Homo sapiens: one gene and its partners. The protein of the gene in region 2 purifies or fractionates together with the protein of the main gene of each other region. This does not show direct contact. Each region holds a gene or a part of one and is shown on either strand. Other genes may lie near its edges.

Evidence for each region.
Region 1: the proteins of MIOX (region 2) and PBLD purify together in Homo sapiens (affinity purification with mass spectrometry; one large-scale study listed by BioGRID and IntAct). This does not show direct contact.
Region 3: the proteins of MIOX (region 2) and MYO10 purify together in Homo sapiens (affinity purification with mass spectrometry; one large-scale study listed by BioGRID and IntAct). This does not show direct contact.

Annotation. Positions count from the first base shown.
Region 1 is NC_000010.11:68,282,160-68,285,044, reverse strand, and holds the end of PBLD (phenazine biosynthesis-like domain-containing protein), read left to right. Parts: intron 1-755; coding exon 756-868; 3' UTR 869-2,385; downstream 2,386-2,885.
Region 2 is NC_000022.11:50,485,355-50,489,658, forward strand, and holds the start of MIOX (inositol oxygenase), read left to right. Parts: upstream 1-1,504; 5' UTR 1,505-1,543; coding exon 1,544-1,558; intron 1,559-2,027; exon of another isoform or gene 2,028-2,030; coding exon 2,031-2,111; intron 2,112-2,307; coding exon 2,308-2,388; intron 2,389-2,531; coding exon 2,532-2,694; intron 2,695-2,888; coding exon of another isoform or gene 2,889-2,920; coding exon 2,921-2,988; intron 2,989-3,340; coding exon of another isoform or gene 3,341-3,566; exon of another isoform or gene 3,567-3,659; intron 3,660-3,685; coding exon 3,686-3,795; intron 3,796-3,873; coding exon 3,874-3,941; intron 3,942-4,042; coding exon 4,043-4,092; intron 4,093-4,177; coding exon 4,178-4,290; intron 4,291-4,304.
Region 3 is NC_000005.10:16,926,289-16,930,013, reverse strand, and holds part of MYO10 (unconventional myosin-X), read left to right. Parts: intron 1-3,725. UniProt on the Homo sapiens protein: Myosins are actin-based motor molecules with ATPase activity. Unconventional myosins serve in intracellular movements. MYO10 binds to actin filaments and actin bundles and functions as a plus end-directed motor.

The DNA of each region.
Region 1 (2,885 bases), on a different chromosome or scaffold from region 2:
CTGGATGATGACCAAGGTTCCTTACTGCTATTGCTAGTCACAGGATTGAATCAAACAAATTACTTTGGAACCAAGTCCCCTAGTGATTAATGTATTGCTTAGAGGCAGAGAAAAATGATGGCAGCCAATGGAGGCTGCACTGCCCTGATCATCCAAGGAGGAGTCTGTGACCCTGATTTGGAGAGAGCAAGGTGGCTATTCATTTTCCTTGGCGAGTCTAATTATTCTCCTAAGTACTGAGCTCCTGGAAGGCTGAGGCTATGCCTCTTTTGTCTGCCTGGAACACGTGGTTGCTTGAATATGTTATGAGTGAATGAACTCCCTCTGTCCTATTCAGAGCTGAGAAGATGGGGGCCTTCTCAAGAGGGCTGAGACCACCCTTCTTCATCTTCCTAGAGTTATAGGCCTGCCTCTATTGTTTCAAACATCTTTGCTTACTCCTAGAGAGAGCAGGGGAAGAAGCGATGAGTGGGGTGTGTCTGGGCCATTACAGGAATTAGTGAAGGAGATGGCCCAGGAAAAGGCTCAGGAAGGGAGTATGTGGAGCTGTGTGTTCTGTAGATCAAATTGAGTTTGTGGCTTTCTCAGTCTGCAGGAGAATGGGGATGGGAGTGGGCAGTACCATAAACAGACGAAGGAATTTATTCTTGAAACTGATCTGGGAGGACTCTAAGATTTGTAATAAGTCTTTCACTATGCTTTGTTAATTTAAAAGGGTGAAAATACTCTTAATTTGACCTGTTTGTTTTCTTTAGCTTTTCAGTGTTCCCACCGAGGAGGAGAGCTGGGAATTTCCCTTCGTCCAGACGGAAGGGTTGACATTAGAGGAGGTGCAGCTGTTGTTTTAGAGGGCACACTGACAGCCTAGAGGTGGTTATGCTGTGACGCTGCTGTCTCTAACCACCAAGTATTTTCTGCTTAAAAAGAAATGTAAGGGGCTGCCTTTAGCAAATGTGCGTAGTAGTCTACTTAATCCTCATGTTAAAAATCGAAAAATGGGCCAGGCGCAGTGGCTCATGCCTGTAATCGTAGCACTTTGAGAGGCCAAGGTGGGTGGATCACCTGAGGTCAGGGGTTCGACACCAGCCTGGCCAACATGGTGAAACCTCGTCTCTACTACAAATACAAAAATTAGCTGGGTGTGGTGCCACATGCCTGTAATTCCAGCTACTTGGGAGGCTGAGGCATGGAGAATCGCTTGAACCCAGGAGGCAGAAGTTGCAGTGAGCAGAGATCACACCACTGCACTCCAGCCTGGGCAACAGAGTAAGACTCCATCCACACACACACACACACACACAAAATTGAAAAGTGAAGACATTTTAATGGAGATTTAATAGTGCTTCCAGACTAATGAACTAATGGAGTTTTGGCTCCACTCATGAGTGTATTTGAAATGTAAGTAACCAGCTACAAAGAATAATGTCACTTCATTTGATTATGACTACCAATCAAGAGAAGGAGGAATACATTTCTGAGGAGTGATACTAAACCATTTGAGCTTAAATGAGTACCTGATTTTGCAGCCATTAAAATGAGTCAATAACTATGTGGAAATATAGAAAAATATTTTATAATATAATACTAAGAAAGAGGACAGTAGGCCATAAAGTGTTAGCAGTGTTATGCTATGTCTATATAAATAAGCATGGGCCATTAAAAATAGCAAACTGAAAACAGTTCATGTGTGGGGGGCAAGTTTAGAAGTAATTTTAATGTATCTAAGAAGTGATTTCCTTTATTGTTGTACTCAGGTACGAAGACTAAAAATCAGGATGAATCCAGAAAATTAACACAAAAAAGTATGTATTAGGCTACTTCCTGTCATAGTGAAATTAAACACTCAAAGTAATGTAATCTCAGCTGGGCGTGGCGGCTCATGCCTGTAATCCCAGCACTTTGGCAGGACAAGGCAGGAGGATCACTTGAACCTAGGAGTTCGAGACCAGCCTGGGCAACACAGCGAGAACTTGTCTCTATTAAAAAAAAAAAAAGGAATGTAATTTCAATCTTTTTCTTGATATATGGCTTGAGAATGATAATGTAAAAGGAATTCTTCTCTTACTTCAATAAAATGGGTTTTAACATAACTTTAAATTCAGTTAAATATACAATATTGAATACCTATAGTTGACTTTGGGATGGGGACTTTTTCAAGTCATTAAGAGTGTTTGTTTAAGGTGATCTCATTGATGGTAGTTCTCAGCCGTCTCAAAAACTGCAAGCTAATCAGTCAGACATTCTTTAATGACCCCAATTTTTTCACTTTAATTGTTACCATGTTTTCTATTTTTACTGATTTTTGCTAAAGCATGTAAGAGTGAATTTATTATAGCAGTAATCTTGTGTTTCTCCTGATGTGCAATAAATCAATAATTCACCAGCTTTAATGCCTTAACTTACTGAGTAACCAGTGCCCCACCGCCCCCCAGAAGACCTCACAACTCATCACAACACACCCACGGGTCATGATACCAAGGGCGAGAATCACCAGAGGGTTTTCCCCCAATTTTGGATTTTCCAAACCTGAGACTGAACTATATGAATAAGTTTATATAAATGTACAGTTGAGAGGGCCTGAATTTGATCAGATCTGAATCTGATCTTTCAAATGTATGCTAAATTCTTTTTTTTTTTTGAGACAGAGTCTTGCTCTGTCGCCCAGGCTGGTGCCATCTTGGCTCACTGCAACCTCCGCCTTCCAGGTTCAAATGATTCTCATGACACAGCCTCCAAAGTAGCTGGGATTACAGGTGCTCACCACCATGCCTGGCTAATTTTTGTATTTTTAGTAGAGATGGGATTTCACCATGTTGGCCAGGCTGGTCTCAAACTCCTGGCCTCAAGTGATCCACCTGTTGTGGCCTCCCAAAGTGCTAGGACTA
Region 2 (4,304 bases):
AAAACCTCCTCTCTTCCTTCACACCTTCCTCTGAATCCCACCCGGTCCCACCTCCTGAACCTATCCAGACACCTTCTCCTGACCCAGGCACCACCTGCTTTCGGGGCGATGGCCGTAGCCTCCTCCCAGGCACCTGTCTGCATCCCTCTGGCCAGTGCATGCTGAGCACGTGACCTACCCGTGTTGGGACACGTGAGGATACAGCCTTGACCCCCAGGGGCTGACATTCTAGGGGGAGATAGAAGGAGACAAACGTAGAAGGTAGAATAAGTGGGTGGTGGAGTGGCAGGGAGTGCTGAGTGCCACAGGAAGTCAGACAAGGAAGGAGAGTGTGGGGCAGGTGCCGTTTAAATGGGGGGCGCTGGGGTCTCCTCACAGTTGCTTCTCAGCTCAGCTGTGCCAGGATCTTGTTGAGTCAGGTCAGCTGCCCACAGCCCTCTTGCCTGACCCCTGAAGCCCAGAACTCTGATCTTCACAGCCCTAGGTATGGCCCCAGCACCCCACTGCCCTCTCTCCTGCCCCAGCCGACTGCTGTTCCCAGACTTCCCTGGCCACGCTCCAAGACGCCAGCTCTGCCGCGGGCACTTTGTTCTCACGGTGTCCTCCATGCCTGCAGGGCCCATGCATGGGAAGTTGCGTTGGCGGCCTGGGTGTTGGCGGTTCCGTGCCTGCTCCAACTCTCCGTGAGGCCCCTCTCCCAGAGCCTGACACACTCTGTGGCCGAACTCTAGGCAGGTGCCCCTGAGTCCTTTCCTCGACGAGGCCTGACCCCATCCCCATCCTCGCTGGGCCCGCCGACCCCGGTGTTAGCAAGAATCCTCTAAATCAGTTTATGGAGAATTACCCACCCTCGATATCTGATCCCATTCCTCATCTCCCACCCTTGATCTCATCACCCTGCCGGCCTCCTGCAAGATCCTCATTGAGCCACTCCAGTGAGAATCCCCCTACCCTCGAAGGCCGCCCTAACAACTTCCCATCCGCTGACCCCTCCAACGCCATCAATCTCCAGCTGTGGTTGTTGAACTCGGAGGTGAGCTCCTCTCACCACTCTCTTGAATAAAGCTTTTCTCACCATTTTAACAAGTCCTCAGAATCATCTTTTCTTAACAAGCTCCTGCCCCACCCAGAATCACGGGGGGCCTGGGGACAAGTTTTCACCTCCTGAGATCCAGTGGGGCAGCCGGGGAAGGGGTGGTGCAGAGGGGGCGTGTGCTTGAGGGTGGGGTCTTGGGTCTGCCCCTACTTGTGGGACCCCACAGAGGGGTCTAAGGCCAGGGCCCAAGTGGGAGGCTGGGCCCACAGATAACCCTAGGCAGGTCAGCGGCTCGGGACAGGAGTGTGAGGCTGAGTCAGGGCCAGAGGATGTGGGACTGCTGGGGGCTGCTGCTGTGCTGACACATTAACTCCCTGAGGCCGGGAGGAGGGTGGATGGTCATTTATTACTGCGGACACTTATGTAACCTGGGGTGTATATAGGAGCCTGGCTGAGGACACACTCGCCAGCCTGTGCTTTGCCACCTGAGCGCCGCTCCCTCTCAGGATGAAGGTGACGGTGGTGAGTACCCAGACCCCATGCAGAGAGGCTCTGCTGACTGCTCTCCTGGTGGCCAGCCACTCCCGCCCTCTTCTAGCTGGCACTGGCCAGCCCTCCTCCTCCGTCCAGCTGGGCAAGAGCCAGCGGCTGCCGACCCCCAGGCTCCCTGTGGACTCAGTCTCCTCCCAAAGCCACTTCCACCCCTCAAGGGTGGCCATGGGTGCCGCTCAGGCGTGGTGTCCCCTGTACCCCGGAAGCAGACGTCTGCTGACTTTCGCTTTGCAGATGAGGACCTGGGAGTGAGAGCTCCTGGGACTCGCTGAGGCCAGGGCAGGGGCTGGGATGATGGCGTGGGAGAGGCTGTGTCCTCGCGTGTCACCCACCAGCCCTCGAGCAGAGGCAGGCTTGGAGTCTGCAGCCACCCTGGGAATGTCTGTGCTTCCTCGTGGAGCTGACATGATGGTGAAATAGGTTCAATCCTCCACCTACCCAGGGCCCAGACCCTTCCCTGGTCTACCGACCTGATGTGGACCCAGAGGTGGCCAAAGACAAGGCCAGCTTCCGGAACTACACGGTGAGTACCTTGCCGTCCTGCCCCCCTTCTCCCCCATCCACACCCTGGGGAGCAGCACTTGCCCTTCACACAGTTCCAGGGGGTGCCCTGTGGGAACTCCCACCCCCATCACACCCTGTGGGGCTGCCTGGGAGAGGGGAGGCATGGGGCCTCGTGTGCAGGGTGGGGGTGGCGCCACTGACCCTCCGGCCTGCAGTCAGGTCCCCTCCTGGACCGTGTCTTCACCACCTACAAGCTCATGCACACGCACCAGACAGTGGACTTCGTCAGGAGCAAGGTAGGCGTTTCCTGCCGCCCCGTGCAAACGCGGAGGGACCCTTGCCCTCAGCCCCATGAGCCCACCAGGCGCCGAGGGGATGGAGAGGCCTGTGTGGTGGGCCTGCTGACCCTGGGCCACACTGCCTTCTCCTTCCCCGCCAGCATGCCCAGTTTGGGGGCTTCTCCTACAAGAAAATGACAGTCATGGAGGCCGTGGACCTGCTGGATGGGCTGGTGGATGAGTCGGACCCGGACGTAGATTTCCCCAACTCCTTCCATGCCTTCCAGACAGCGGAGGGCATCCGGAAGGCCCACCCAGACAAGGGTGAGCCCTGGCTGTGCTGCAGGGGGGCAGGTGCTGCCTCCAAGGGGCAGAATGCAGCAGCCTGTAGGGTGGGAGGGGACAGTAGTGGGCCCAGGCCTCCTCCAGCAGCCCTGCCTGGGTTGGGGAGCAGGCCCTGGACCCTTCCTGGCTCTCAGCCCCGCAAACCTGCTCATCCTCTGCCTTGGCCCCTGCAGTCCCCAACCTGCCCTGTCCATCCCCCTCCCAGACTGGTTCCACCTCGTCGGGCTCCTGCACGACCTGGGGAAGGTCCTGGCCCTGTTCGGGGAGCCCCAGGTAAGAGTTGGAAGTGGAGGGTGAGGAGGCTGCATGTTGAGGCAAGGTGGGGGTGGAGTGGCCTTGGTGCTTGGCCTGGGATACTACCTGGGGGACAGGCCAGTGCACCCCCCACGGCCCCCCGACGGCTGCCTGTCCCTCTGGTGGCCTCGGTGCTTGGCCTGGGATACTACCTGGGGGACAGGCCAGTGCACCCCCCACGGCCCCCCCCACGGCTGCCTGTCCCTCTGGTGGCCTCGGTGCTTGGCCTGGGATACTACCTGGGGGACAGGCCAGTGCACCCCCCACGGCCTCCCCGCACCACTCCCCCCACGGCCCCCCATGGCCGCCTGTCCCTCCTGTCACTCTGCAGTGGGCGGTCGTCGGCGACACCTTCCCCCACTTCCCCCACGGCCCCCCATGGCTGCCTGTCCCTCCTGTCCCTCCTGTCCCTCCCATCCCTCCCGTCCCTCCTGTCCCTCCCGTCCCTCCCATCCCTCCTGTCCCTCTGCAGTGGGCAGTCATCGGCAACATCTTCCCCCACTCCCCCCATGGCCGCCCGTCCCTCCTGTCCCTCTGCAGTGGGCAGTCATCGGTGACACCTTCCCCCACTCCCCCCATGGCCGCCCGTCCCTCCTGTCCTTCTGCAGTGGGTGGTCATCGGCGACACCTTCCCCCACTCCCCCCATGGCCTCCCGTCCCTCCTGTCCCTCTGCAGTGGGCTGTCGTCGGCGACACCTTCCCCGTCGGATGCCGTCCGCAGGCCTCCGTGGTTTTCTGCGACTCCACCTTCCAGGACAACCCTGACCTCCAGGATCCTCGATACAGGTGCTCCCTGCTGCTGAGGGCTGGGCCCCCTTCCCTGGGCGGCTGCTGAGCCCTCCTCACCCTGGTATCTCACTGCAGCACAGAGCTCGGGATGTATCAGCCCCACTGTGGGCTCGACAGGGTCCTCATGTCCTGGGGCCATGATGGTGAGGCCAGAGGCGGGCAGTGGGGCGGTGGGGGGCGGTGGGGGACGGTGGGGGGCGGTGGGGCAGAGGCAGTGCCTGCTGGTGACACCCTCTCCCCACAGAGTACATGTACCAGGTGATGAAGTTTAACAAGTTCTCACTGCCCCCTGAGGTAGGTGGGGGGAGGGGCAACGCAGCCCGTCCACCAGGCCCGGTCCTGCAGCCCCAAGTGAGCCGCTGGGTGGCCTTGCCCGCAGGCTTTCTACATGATCCGGTTCCACTCCTTCTACCCCTGGCACACGGGCCGCGACTACCAGCAGCTGTGCAGCCAGCAGGACCTGGCCATGCTGCCCTGGGTGCGGGAGTTCAAGTACGCCCCGCTAC
Region 3 (3,725 bases), on a different chromosome or scaffold from region 2:
GGTTGAGATTCAATCCTTGCATAATGGTTATTTTCAGATTATTTTATGGCGGGAAGGGGAGATGCTTCTAACTTTTTCCCTTGATTATGAAGTATCTTACAGTTCTTTGAAGACAATAATAAATATGGCTAGTGTTTCTTGAGTACAGTCAGCCCTGTACTCAGTATCTGTGGGTTCTGCATCTCTGGATTCAACCAACCTCTGATTGAAAATATTCAAGAAAAAAATTGCATCTGTACTGAACATGTAGACTTTTCCCCATGGATTTTGGTATCTGGGGAAGGTCTTGGAACCAGTTCCCTATAGATACATAGGGACAACTGTACTTACCATGTGCCAGGCATGTTGCTGGCACTTCACATTTAGTGACTCATTTAATCCCTTGAACAACCCTATGGGAAAGGCTCTATAATTATACCCAATCCATAGATGAAGAAAGTGAGGCACAGAGAGGTTAAGTAACTGACTCAGTGTCACACAGCTAGAAAACGATAGCCAGGATTTGAACCCAGACAGGCTGTGTCCAGAGCCACAGAGAGTTCTTCACTGCCATGCTTTTCTGTCCTGTTGATGTCCTTTGCCTTAAACTTGCGTCATCTTCTCTAGGCTCTCTGATGAAATGCCCTAAAAGTGGGCAGTTATTAAATGATTTTCAAGTGGAAAACTGCATGGGAGTTTAGGAAAACAAGTAGTCCACACCCTAGAAATGTTGAAAACTCCGCAGGAAAATGTTCATCAGCTTTTGAACATGCCACTGATTTGGCCGGGTGCAGTGGCTCATGCCTGTAATCCCAGCACTTTGGGAGGCCGAGGTGGGCGGATCACGAGGTCAGGAGATGGAGACCATCCTGGCTAACACGGTGAAACCCCCATCTCTACTAAAAATACAAAAAATGAGCCGGGCATGGTGGCGGGCACCTGTAGTCCCAGCTACTCGGGAGGCTGAGGCAGGAGAAGGGCGTGAACCCAGGAGGCGGAGCTTGCAGTGAGCTGAGATCGCGCCACTGCACTCCAGCCTGGGCGACAGAGCAAGACTCCGTCTCAAAAAAAAACCAAAAAAAAAACATGCCACTAATTTTTATTTGATTTGCTTTTTTTGGGAAAGCCAAGCGCCTTCTGTTTCCTTCTAAAAATGTGTGTGTGTGTTTTTGTTGTTGTTGTTGTTTTTTGAGATGGAGTCTTGCTCTGTCGCCCAGGCTGGAGTGCAATGGTGTGATCTCGGCTCACTGCAACCTCCACCTCCCAGGTTCAAGCGATTCTCCTGCCTTAGCCTCCCAAGTAGCTGGGACTACAGGCGCCTGCCACCACACCCGGCTAATTTTTGATATTTTTAGTAGAGATGGGGTTTCACCTTGTTGGCCAGAATGGTCTCGATTTCCAGACCTTGTGATCCACCCGTCACAGCCTCCCAAAGTGCTGGGATTACAGGTGTGAGCCGTCATGCCCGGCCCATAAAGTGTGGTTTCTAAAGCTGGTTGTCCCAACTTCATGAGGATAGTAGGAAGGTTTACATACTAAAGCACTTAGGGCCATGTGCTCATGCCTGTAATCCCAGCACTTTGGGAGGCCGAGGCAGGTGGATACCTGAGGTCAGGAGTTCGAGACCAGCCTGGGCAACATAGTGAAACCCTGTCTCTAATAAAATCCAAAAATTAGCTGGGCGTGGTGACATGGGCCTGTAATCGCAACTACTTGGAAGGCTGAGGCAGGAGAATCGGTTGAATCCGGGAGGTGAAGATTACGGTGAGCCACTGCACTCCAGCCTGGGTGACAGAGGGAGACTGTCTCCAAAATTGTAATAGTAATAATAAAAATATTAAAACAAAATAAAGCACTTAGAAAACAAGATGATTTGAGAAGTGTTTATTAAAAGAAAATGTGGGACTCATTTGTTTCCCTAATTCCAGCTGTCAATTAATTAGTGAAGTGTTACTTGAGGTTTTTTGATAGAATCTTCTTTTTCAGTTAAAGATTCTGAGTGCTTTGTTGGAGTTTCTTCATATCACCTATCATTTGCTTGTTAGCTTATCGATACCCATGGAACAGTTATTGACAGGACATTGGGTCGTTTTCCCAAGAGCATTCCTTGAATAAAACATTTTGCTGCCTTGCTAAGAGGTGTTCAGAAAATATTTCCACCAGGCCTAAAGTAAATCTAGCACCTCATGTCACATGACATCATGTCATCTAATGCTGCCAGTTACAGGAAAAGACATTAGAGTTTTGGGGACAAAGCCACAACACATCTGTTGAAATACAGCTAGAACAAGGGAGAAACATATGGGAATTGTCCAACTAATAGCTCTACCTTCACCCAGTCCGACTCCCTGCCTGCTCTTAAGGATTAAAATTGCCTCCGTATAAAAGCATTTTAAATTACGGCAGTTAAAGGCCGGGCGCGGTGGCTCAAGCCTGTAATCTCAGCACTTTGGGAGGCCGAGGCAGGAGGATCACGAGGTCAGGAGATCCAGACCATCCTGGCTAACATGGTGAAACCCCGTCTCTACTAAAAATACAAAAAACTAGCTGGGCGTGGTGGCTGGCACCTGTAGTCCCAGCTACTCGGGAGGATGAGGCAGGAGAATGGCATGAACCTGGGAGGCGGAGCTTCCAGTGAGCCGAGATTGTGCCACTGCACTCCAGCCTGGGCAACAGAGCAAGACTCCATCTCAATAAATAAATAAATAAACAAACAAACAAAAGAAAATACCATAAGCAGAAGACACAAAGAAGCTCCCATGGTGTGGCTCTTCATGTTTGTGGTAGATGCATTGAGACTTTTTTTTTATGCCTTCATATATATGTTTCTGATAAAACACACCTGTAATGTTTTTCACTGAAGAGTTGATTGAGAAAAGCTTTAAATATCATTTGTGGGGCCAGAGGCAAGAGTACAAATTCAGTTCCCATATCACATACCTAAACATTTAAAAGTTATAAACCATGCTTACAAATTGGTAAATAAAATGGCTTCTACTCTGCCTGGACAAATACATCTGTCATTAGGGCAGAATCAACAAACATGTTTAAAGCTATGGGTTTTATTGCTGAAAGTCAGCAAAATATCAAACATGAGTGAATTTAATTACAGTTGCCTATGTCTGGGTGTTCTGTTGATGTTTCATGAGTAATAAATACGTATACTCCATAGTATATTTTTCATAAATCTATTTTTTTGTCCATATTTTAGCAAACTCACTTGTTATGTGGTTAGAGTCAAGATTGTCACAATAGTTTGTTTTACGGACAGTAATACCAAGGTGGAGAACCTTTCTTTGTGGTTCTTAGATTGTTCTTTTTTTTTTTTTTGCTGGGACAGAGTCTTCCTCTTTCGCCCAGGCTGGAGTGTAGTGGCGCAATTTTGGCTCACTGCAACCTCCACCTCCCGAGTTCAAGCAATCCTTCTGCCTCAGCCTCCCACGTAGCTGGGATTACAAGTGTGTGCCACCATGCCTGGCTAATTTTTGTATTTACAGTAGAGACGGGGTTTCATCATGTTGGCCAGGCTGATCTGAAGCTTGTGACCTCAATTGATCCACTAGCCTTGGCCTCCGGAAGTTCTGGGATTACAGGCGTGAGCCACCCCACCTGGCCAGATTGTTCTTTTCTTAATCTAAGTCTAGAGATGGCCTGCTTTGCTGAGGCAGGACAGTAGTTACTGACATTGTCAGCGAAATTCATACAGCACTATTTAGATTAAAAAAAGAATGAGATTGCATATGATA